Homo sapiens: one gene and its partners. The protein of the gene in region 1 purifies or fractionates together with the protein of each later gene. This does not show direct contact. Each region holds a gene or a part of one and is shown in the gene's direction. Other genes may lie near its edges.

What was found.
Region 2: the proteins of NAA35 (region 1) and DRG1 fractionate together in Homo sapiens (co-fractionation; one large-scale study listed by BioGRID). This does not show direct contact.
Region 3: the proteins of NAA35 (region 1) and ATXN2 fractionate together in Homo sapiens (co-fractionation; one large-scale study listed by BioGRID). This does not show direct contact.

What each region holds. Positions count from the first base shown.
Region 1 is NC_000009.12:86,021,067-86,023,629, forward strand, and holds part of NAA35 (N-alpha-acetyltransferase 35, NatC auxiliary subunit), read left to right. Parts: intron 1-834; coding exon 835-894; 3' UTR 895-2,563. UniProt on the Homo sapiens protein: Auxillary component of the N-terminal acetyltransferase C (NatC) complex which catalyzes acetylation of N-terminal methionine residues. N-terminal acetylation protects proteins from ubiquitination and degradation by the N-end rule pathway.
Region 2 is NC_000022.11:31,423,485-31,427,139, forward strand, and holds part of DRG1 (developmentally-regulated GTP-binding protein 1), read left to right. Parts: intron 1-3,130; coding exon 3,131-3,298; intron 3,299-3,575; coding exon 3,576-3,655. UniProt on the Homo sapiens protein: Catalyzes the conversion of GTP to GDP through hydrolysis of the gamma-phosphate bond in GTP. Appears to have an intrinsic GTPase activity that is stimulated by ZC3H15/DFRP1 binding likely by increasing the affinity for the potassium ions.
Region 3 is NC_000012.12:111,589,161-111,592,815, reverse strand, and holds part of ATXN2 (ataxin-2), read left to right. Parts: intron 1-3,655. UniProt on the Homo sapiens protein: Involved in EGFR trafficking, acting as negative regulator of endocytic EGFR internalization at the plasma membrane.

The sequences.
Region 1 (2,563 bases):
ACTGAACAAAAATCATTCTAAAAATTTTAGTTCAGCAGCAAAAAATTAGAGCTTGCCATTTTGTCTTGAGATGTGTATTTTGTTGAGTTAAAATTTCTAAAGTCTGCCTATACGTTTTCCATCTCCTTGCTGTGTAAATTACTGAATAACTTGGGGTAAAAAAAGAAAATTTATGTAAAGAAATTTTATGGGAGAAGTATGAGGTATTTAAAAGTCATCTGCCTTTGGGAAAGTGAATGCTTTAATAATGAAAGACTTCTTTGTAATGGCTCAGAAGAGGAAGAGTCTAAGCTTTTCTTGGTAATGTTATATCATCCATGCTACGTCATCATTTCAGAGCAGAGATTCTGCGCTGTGGAGAGGCCAGCCGCGGAGGCACCGTGGGGGCATTTGCCTGTGTGTGTTGTGCACCTTTTCTTCCATTGTTTCCTGTGATCTGCCTTCCTCCTCTCCTGCCCTGGTTTCCTACTGACTGACTCTCATCTCATTGCTTAGTTCTATCAGTTACCTGGAGCTAAAAAGTGTGCTGACCCCTGATCTAACTGAATGCCTTTCCTATAATTTTTGACTATTTATCTTTTAACTGTTCTTTGAAGATAGAAAACAGCTGGTCAGCCTGTTTTCTTATGATCTTCATAAAACTCAAAAACAAATTAATCGTTTTTCTTCCAGGTTAGTTCCTACCTTTTTTGTCATTAACCTAGTTTTTAAAATCTATTTTGTGCTGCCTTGTTTCTAAGAACACAAGAAACTCTAAAATAAAAATAGTCTTTGTTTTGTGTACCATCTGAATATTTGTAGATACATTAATTGAGTTTCGTTTTTCTTTAACAGGTTCCTCCTGAATTTGATTTCTCTGCTCATAAATATTTTCCTGTTGTGAAACTTGTTTGAGAGAGACTGGGGAGGTGGCCATAAAGGGGCAGAGTCTTCTTTCAGACCCAACTCTTAGAGGGCACATCACCAGGCTCCACATCACGGGAAGTGAGATGGATTTCTTGGGTAACAACTCATTATAAGGAATACTTTTAGTTTGACAGCCTTATATGACATGAATGAAAACTGCTGTTTTAAAGTGGTTTATTATGTTCCATGGAAGAAACTGGTCTTATTGAATGCATTGATGAACGTTATATGGTTTTATTACAGATTTAATCACAAATCATTTTTTATGAATGATTGAGTGAAAATAGTGTTTATAAAGGTTAATAAATTTCTTGACAAAAAAAAAATGCACTGCTGGAGATGAAAAACAGTAGGTCTTTGTCCATGTTAAGAACTGAAGAAGGTGTATGCTCTTTAACATTTGAGTAGTTCCAAAAACGTTATCCAAAAGAAGTTTCAAATCAAGGGATTAATTAAACACTTGTATGAGATTTTGGTAAAATACATTTAGAAGGGATTTTTGGGAGGGCCTCTAAATTACATGAAAATTGTGATTTTTATGTGTCATGACATCACAAATTATATATCTGTAAGAATACAGATGTGTAAAAAAAATCCTTTTAGCACTTTTAAAAGATTATACATTGTTTGCTGGTGACATGCAAAAAGGAGGCAGATAGAAATGTATATAGATTAAAATTTAGGACTAGGTTTAAATGTGGTGTACTTTTTGTTTACTTCATATTCAGTTTAACCCATGAAACATTTTCAAATGGGTGTCTGTTCAGTATCCTCTGGCTTTGAAAAACTGACTACATCCCCCTGTGCTTGCAAGTGCCTGCTGCCAGAGGCCCTCCCCTTCCTTTCCTGCTTGTCCTGTGTCTGCTCTGATGTTTGCGGTGGCAGCTTTCTAGGCCTCTTGGGCCTTCCTTTTTGTCCTCTGTAGCAGGCAATACTCTTAGCAAAATGAGTTACTCTGTGGTGTAAATTGGCTTTGGTGGCTTAGCCTAAGACTAGTGACAGTTTTATATTTGGTCTGTGGTTAAAAGGGTTCTCAGCTTCAAATATCTTAACTCTGATTTGGTACCTTTCATAAAAACATGATAGTATAGTGAAACTTTTCTGGCAGTACTTTAAAGCAGCTAACCTGACTGAACTTGCTAAGGGTGTTCCTGTTGCCCCTCTTTGCAGCTAATGAGCCCTCTTGGCTCTCCTTTCCAAGAGCGGTAATACTTGTGTTATTCAAGAACAGCCATTAGGTGTCCTGAAATTTCAGAACCGAAAAATCTTAAAAAAAATTATTTTTTAAGTAGCCTGTACAATAGAAACTTCAATTATGGAGAGACAAAGAGTATACCTGTTACTGATGTAGTTACTTTGTTGAGAATGAAAACTGTTTCTGGCTGGTAATTACTGAATGCTTTAAACAAAAAAAGGCAAAGGAATGGTAGGAAATAGGCAAGACAAGAAACAAAGAATCAAAAGAAAAAGCAAAGAGGAAAACAGAATGAGCATGGACATTTGGCAAACAACCAAGAAGAGAGCCTGAAGCAAGTTAGAAAGCTGAGAAATTATTATTCTTTCCCAGTGGCCAAGATACAAAGTATAAAAAATATGTCCCCCTTAAAAGCAAAAAAAGGAATGTAGATTAATGCAACAAGGGCCCTGCTAGATGATG
Region 2 (3,655 bases), on another chromosome or scaffold:
CTGGCAGAAGTTTATCTTAATTCCAGTTGTCCTACTGTCTTTTTTTTTTTTTTTTTTTTTGAGATGGAGTCTCACTCTGTTGCCCAGGCTAGAGTGCAGTGGCGTGATCTCAGCTCACTGCAAGCTCCACCTCCCAGGTTCAAGAGATTCTTCTGCCTCAGCCTCCCGAGTAGCTAGGATTACAGGTGCGCACCACCACGCCCAGCTAATTTTTGTATTTTTAGTAGAGATGGGGTTTCATCATGTTGGCCAGGCTGGTCTTGAACTCCTGACCTCAAGTGATCCGTCTGCCTCGGCCTCCCAAAATGTTGGGATTACAGGCATGAGCCACTGTGTCCAGCCTGTGCTACTATCTTAAATGATAGTGGGCTTTGGTTTCTTTTTTTTTTTTTTTTTTGAGATAGAGTTTCGCTCTTGTTAGCCAGGCTGGAGTGCAGTGGCGCAGTCTCGGCTCACTGCAACCTCCACTTCCAGGTTCAAGCGATTCTCCTCCCTCAGCCTTCCTGAGTAGCTGGGATTACAGGCCTGTGCCGCCACGCCTGGCTAATTTTGTATTTTTAATAGAGATGGGGTTTCTCCGTGTTGGTCAGGCTGGTTTCGAACTCCTGACCTCAGGTGATCCACCCCACCTCGGTCTCCCAAAGTGCTGGGTTTACAGGTGTGAGCCCGGCCTTTTTTTTTTGAGACAGAGTCTTACTCTGTCACCCAGGCTGGAGTGCAATGGTGTGATCTCAGCTCACTGTAACCTCCTCCGCCTCCCAGGTTCAAGCGATTCTGCTGCCTCAGCCTCCCAAGTAGCTGAGATTACAGGTGTGCACCACCATGCCCAGCTAATTTTGTATTTTTAGTAGAGACGGGGTTTCATCATGTTGGCCAGACTGGTCTCAAACTCCTGACCTCAAGTGATCCGCCTGCCTTGGCCTGCCAGAATGTTAGGATTACAGACATGAGCCACTGCGTCCAGCCTGTGTTACTATCTTAAATGATAGTGGGGCTTTGGTTTCTTTTTTTTTTTTTTTTTTTTTTTTTGTGAGACAAGAGTCTCACTCTGTCACCTGGGCTGGAGTACAGTGGCGCGATCTTGGCTCACTGCAACCTCCACCTCCTGGGTTCAAGTGATTCTTCGGCCTCAGCCCCCTGAGTAGCTGGGATTATAGGCGCCTGCCACTACATCTGGCTAATTTTTTGTATTTTTAGTAGAGATGGGGTTTCATGTTGGCCAGGCTGGTCTTGAACTCCTGACTTCAGGTGATCTACCCACCTCAGCCTCCCAAAGTGCTGGGATTACAGGTATGAGCTGCTGTGCCCGGCACCCGCCCCCCCCCCCTTTTTTTTTTTTTTGGAGTCTTGCTTTGTCCCCCAGGCTGGAGTGCAGTGGCACGATTTCAGCTCACTGCAACCTCTGCCTCCCGGGTTCAAGCAATTCCCCTGCCTCAGCCTCCCAAGTAGCTGGGACTACAGGTGTCCGCCACCATACCCAGCTAATTTTTGTATTTTTAGTAGAGACGGGGTTTCTCCATGTTAGCCAGGCTGGTCTCAAACCTCAGGCAGTCTGCCTGCCTCTGCCTCCCAAAGTGCTGGGATTACAGGCGTCAGTCACCCTGCCTGCTGGCTTTGGTTTCTTTAGGGGTAAACTGAGGGATTAGTTTTTATTTCTGACATCCTTCCTTGCTTTTAAATTTAATTATGATGGTCATATTCCCCATTTCAGTTTTTTTCTTTTACAGCCTCTTCCTATGAAATTCTCCGTTTCAGTTACTTGCTGTAAACTAAGCTGCCCCCTAAACTTTGTCATGTGATAGTTGAAGAAAGTAGTAGGTCAGTCTGCTCTTCCAGAATTAATCCACCTGAGAAGTTATATAGGCTGTGTCCTACAGAAGTCCGAGCAGGCCAGGCTGTGTCTGTTTTCTCCATCCTAAGAGTATGTAGCTGAATATCTGTTTCATGATACATTACTTTTTTTTTTTTTTTTTGAGACAGAGTCATGCTCTTGTCGCCCAGGCTGTAGTGCAGTGGTGTGATCACGGCTTACCGCAGCCTTGAACTCCCGGGCTCAATCCATCCTCCCACCTCAACCTCCTGAGTAGCTGGGACTATGGGCGTGTGCCACCAAGCCAGGCTAATTTTTGTATTTTTTGTAGAGATGTTGTTTCACCACGTTGCCGAGACTGGTCTTGAACTCCTGGGCTCAAGCAATCTGCCTGCCTTGGCCTCCCAACGTGTTGGGATTATAGGCATAAGCCACTATGCCCAGCCCATTAATATTACTGAGACTTTAATAAGTTAAGTCACTGTTAAAATTACTCATAGCATTTGCATGTAATATTTTTAGTTGCTCTCCTAGTCATTTGTTCCTGTATGTTGGATGAGTGTACTTACTCCTCATTTGAAAACAAACAGAAGCCAGTGTTTTCAGTTAGGCATTTTACAAGTGAGGCAGTTAAACCTGAGAAGTTGTGGCTTGCCTAATTAGTAGTAACCTTAGCTGTCATATTGATTGGACACTAGGAATATGACATTGGTAGATGCTATATCAGTTTTACCAATATTATTTATTGTACCAATAAATAAAACACTTATTTTTTAGTCTTTAAGTATAAATTATGTTTTAAAACAGCCTTGTAGGAAACTGACTCAGAGGTTAAGTGACTTTCCTAGGGACACATAACATCACCTCTTCATATCCACAGAGGATTGCTTCCAGGACCCCTTGCAGATAATGAAACCTGCAGATGCTCAAGGCCCTTATATAAAATGGTATAGTACAGCTGACCCTCCGTGTCTGTGGGTTTTTGATCTGCAGTTGGTTGAATTCAGGGATGCAAAACCTGCATATTTGGAGGGCCAGCTGGGATTAGAATCAGTCTGAGCACTTCAAAGCTTGTGTTCTTTCCACTGCAGTATGCTTTCCTAGCAGTTAGCTTTGTGGCTGGTACTAGGGCCTGACTTCTGTTACTTTTCAACCCATAGTTCACTTTTTCTTTTTCTTTTTTCTTTTTCTGGCTGATCTGCTACTTACAGTCCCTCTTGGGAGCGCCAGTTGGGTCTGGGTGAGGGTGTGCTGTTCAACAGTCTGACAGTTCTGTCAACAACTCCAGACTAATACCCTGTTTTTCTTCACTTTCTGTAGAGTTTATATCCCCTGTATCTATGTGTTAAATAAGATTGACCAAATCTCCATTGAGGAATTGGATATCATCTATAAGGTGCCTCACTGTGTACCCATCTCTGCCCATCACCGCTGGAATTTTGATGACCTATTGGAAAAGATCTGGGACTATCTGAAACTAGTGAGAATGTAAGTCTTTGTGGATAGGGTAATGTTGCTATAGGAATTAACCAGACTGTCCTAAAATGATACTTTCTGGAGCTCATTAACAAAATCTGGCTCTTTTTGAAAATATAAGTAAATTGGTTCCTATTATCTACTAGGTCATTAGGTCATATTGAGGACACTTTTTCCCTTAAGTTGGAGGTTGTCCTGGTCTGATGTCAGGGGTGATGGAGGGTTGCTATACATTCAACACATGAGATAGTCTAAGAAGGCAGTAATCTTTATGCCCTCTCTATTCTAGTTACACCAAACCCAAAGGCCAGTTACCAGATTACACATCCCCAGTGGTGCTTCCTTACTCCAGGACCACAGTGGAGGATT
Region 3 (3,655 bases), on another chromosome or scaffold:
CACCTATTATCTTTTTTTTTTTTTTTTTTTTTTGAGACGGAGTCTTGCTCTGTCGCCCAGGCTGGAGTGCAGTGGCACGATCTCTGCTTACTGCAACCTTTGCCTCCCGGGTTCAAGTGATTCTCCTGCCTCAGCCTCCTGAGTAGCTGGGTCTACATGCGCACACCACCACGCCTGGCTAATTTTTGTATTTTTAGTAGAGACAGGGTTTCACCATGTTGGCTAGAATGGTCTCAAACTCCTGACCTCAGGTGATCCACCTGCCTCAGCCTCCCAAAGTTCTGGGATTACAGGCATGAGCCACCGTGCTTGGCCGCTGCCGTATCTTTTTAAATGAAAGTACTTGTGTTTTTTTTGTTTTTTTCCAAAGGATATCTGGGTCATCTATGATGTTACTGTTACCATCTAAGGGTTTTTTTGTTTGTTTTTGAGACAGAGTCTCTGTCGCCCAGGCTGGAGTGCAGTGGCGTGATCTTGGCTCACTGCAACCTCCGCCTCCCAGGTTCAAGCAATTCTCCTGCCTTAGCCCTCCCGAATAGCTGGGATTACAGGCACCCGCCACCATGCCTGGCTAAGTTTTGCATTTTTAGTAGATATGGAGTTTCACCATGTTGGCCAGGCTGCTCTTGAACTCCTGACCTCAGGTGATTCGCTTGCCTCGGCCTCCCAAAGTGCTGGGATTACAGGCGTGAGCCACCCCCGCCCAGCCTCATGAGCTAAGGTGTTTTTTTTTTTTTTGAGACAGTTTTGCTCTTTCCCAGGCTGGAGTGCAGTGGTGCAATCTCAGCTCACTGCAACCTCTGTTTCCCGGGTTCAAGCGATTCTCCTGCCTCAGCCTTCTGAGTAGCTGAGATTACAGGTGCCTGCTACCCCACTCAGCTAATTTTTGTATTTTTAGCAGAGACAGGGTTTCACCATGTTGGTTAGGCTCATCTCGAACTCCTGACCTTAAGCGATCCACCTGCCTTGGCCTCCCAAAGTGCTGGGATTATAGGCATGAGCCACCGTGCGCAGCCTACCCTGTCTCTTAAAAAACAGTAACAACAACAACAACAACAAAAAATCCTAAATCTTAAAAATGGAAGGCAAAAACTCTAAGCTTTGAGAGATTAGGGGACTTGCCCAAAGCAATATTTGTAGGATTTTATTACACCTCTCCCTTTATTTATTTTTTTAGAGTCAAGGTCTCCCTCTGTCACCCAGGCTGGAGTGCAGCCTCAATCTATGGGGCCAAGCATTTCTCCTGTCTTAGCCTCCTGAGTAGCTGGAACTACAGGTGTACACCAGCTGGCTAACATTTAAATTTTTTGTAGAGACAGGGTCCTGCCATGTTGCCCAGATTGGTCTCAAACTCCTGGGCTCAAGTGATCCTCCTGCCTCAGCTTCCCAAAGTGCTGAGATTACAGGTGTGAGCCACTGCACCGAGCCCCCTCCCTTTATTTTTATTTTTAAATTTTAAGTTCTGGGGCCCCTCCCTTGAAATAAATAGAAACGTAATATATACACAAGATCATGCTGTGTATTTTAAGGCAATGGTCCTCAACCTTTTTAACACTAGGGACCGGTTTTGTGGAAGATGGTTTTTCCATAGGGGCAGGGGATGATTTTGAGATGAAACTGTTCCACCGGCCGGGCACGGTGGCTCACGCCTGTAATCCCAGCACTTTGGGAGGCCGAGGCGGGCAGATCACGAGGTCAGGAGATCGAGACCATCCTGGCTAACATGGTGAAACCCCCCTCTACTAAAAATACAAAAAAATTAGCTGGGCGCGGTGGAGGGCGCCTGTAGTCACAGCTACTCCGGAGGCCGAGGCAAGAGAATGGCATGAAACCCGGGAGGCAGAGCTTGCAGTGAGCTGAGATAGCACCACTGTACTTCAGCCTGGGGGACAAAGTGAGACTCCGTCTAAAAAAAAAAAAATTGTTCCACCTCAGATCATTATGCATTTGTTAGATTCTCATAAAGAGCATACAACCTACATCTCTTGCTATATGCAGTTCCCAGTAGGGTTTGTGCTTCTATAAGAACCTAATGCTGCACCTGATCTAACAGGTGGGGCTCAGGTGCTAATGCTCACACAGCTCCTGTTGTGCAGTCTGGTTCCTAACAGGCCTGTTTTTTTTTTTTTAATTAGATGGAGTCTCGCTCTGTCACCAGGCTGGAGTGCAGTGGCACGATCTCAGCTCACTGCAACCTCTGCCTCCCGGGTTCAAGCGATTCTCCTGCCTTAGCCTCCCATGTAGTTGGTACTACAGGCGCACACTGTGATGCCCAGCTAATTTTTGTATTTTTAGTAGAGACGGGGTTTCACCATGTTGGCCAGGATGGTGTCGATCTCCTGACCTTGTGATCCGCCCAACAGCCTCCCAAAGTGCTGGAATTACAGGCGTGAGCTGCTGCGTCCGGCCCCCTAACAGGCTTGTTTTATGGAATACAGTCACGGACAGTACTTGCCCTTCAGGATATCTTTTTGTAACCTTGATTTTGGCTTGCTAAAATAGGAGGTCTATTTTCTTTTCTTTGTTTTTAATGTATGTGGTTCTGTACTTACGTGGTGTGAAATCTACATAAATGTTAAATCCTTGGTTATTTATTTATTTTGAGACAGAGTCTCACTCTGTCACCCAGTCTGGAAAGCAGTGGCATAATCTCGGCTCACTGTAACCTCCACTTCCCAGGTTCCAGTGATTCTCCTGCCTCAGCCTCCTGAGTAGCTGGGATTACAGGCATGCACCACTACACCTGGCAAATTTTTGTATTTTTTTTTAGTAGAGATGGGGTTTCACCATGTTGGCCAGGCTCGTCTTGAACTCCTGACCTTAGGTGATCTGCCTGTCTTGGCCTCCCAAAGTTTTGGGATTACAGCATGAGCCACTGCGCCTCGCCTTATTTTTTTGAGACAGGTTCTAGCTCTGTCACCCAGGCGGGAGTGCAGTGGTGCCATCATGGCTCATTGCAACCTCGAGTTCTCAGGCCCAAGTGATCCTCCTATCTCAGCCTCCTGAGTAGCTGGGACCACAGGCATGCGCCACTATGCCCAGCAAAATTTTTGTTTCACTCTGTTGCCTAGGGTGGGGTGCAGTGGCAGGATATCGGCTCAGTGCAACCTCTGCCTCTTGCGTTCAAATGATTCTCATGCCTCAGCCTCCCGAGTAGCTGGGATTATAGGCATGCGCCACTACACCTGGCTAATTTTTGTATTATTGGTAGAGATGGGGTTTTATCATGTTGGCCAGGCTGGTCTCGAACTCCCGACCTCAGGTGATCCATATACCTTGGCCTCCTGAAGTGCTGGAATTACAGGCATAAGCCACTGCGCCTAGCTTTTTTGTTTGTTTTTATTTTGTAGGGACAGAGATTTTACCTGTTGCCCAGGATGGCCTTGAATTCCTGACCTCAAACAATTTGCCCTCCTTGGCCTCCCAAGGTGCTGGGATTACAGGTGTGAGCCACTATGCCTGGCTGGTTTTTTAAATTATTATTATTGTTTGTGTGTGTGTGTTGCAGGATCTTACCCTGTCACCCAGGCTGGAATGCAGTGATGTGATCTCGGCTTACTGCAACCTCCGCCTCCTAGGTTCAAGTGATTGTCCTGCCTCAGCCTCCTGAGTAGCTGGGATAACAGCTGTGTGCCACCATGCCTGGCTAATTTTT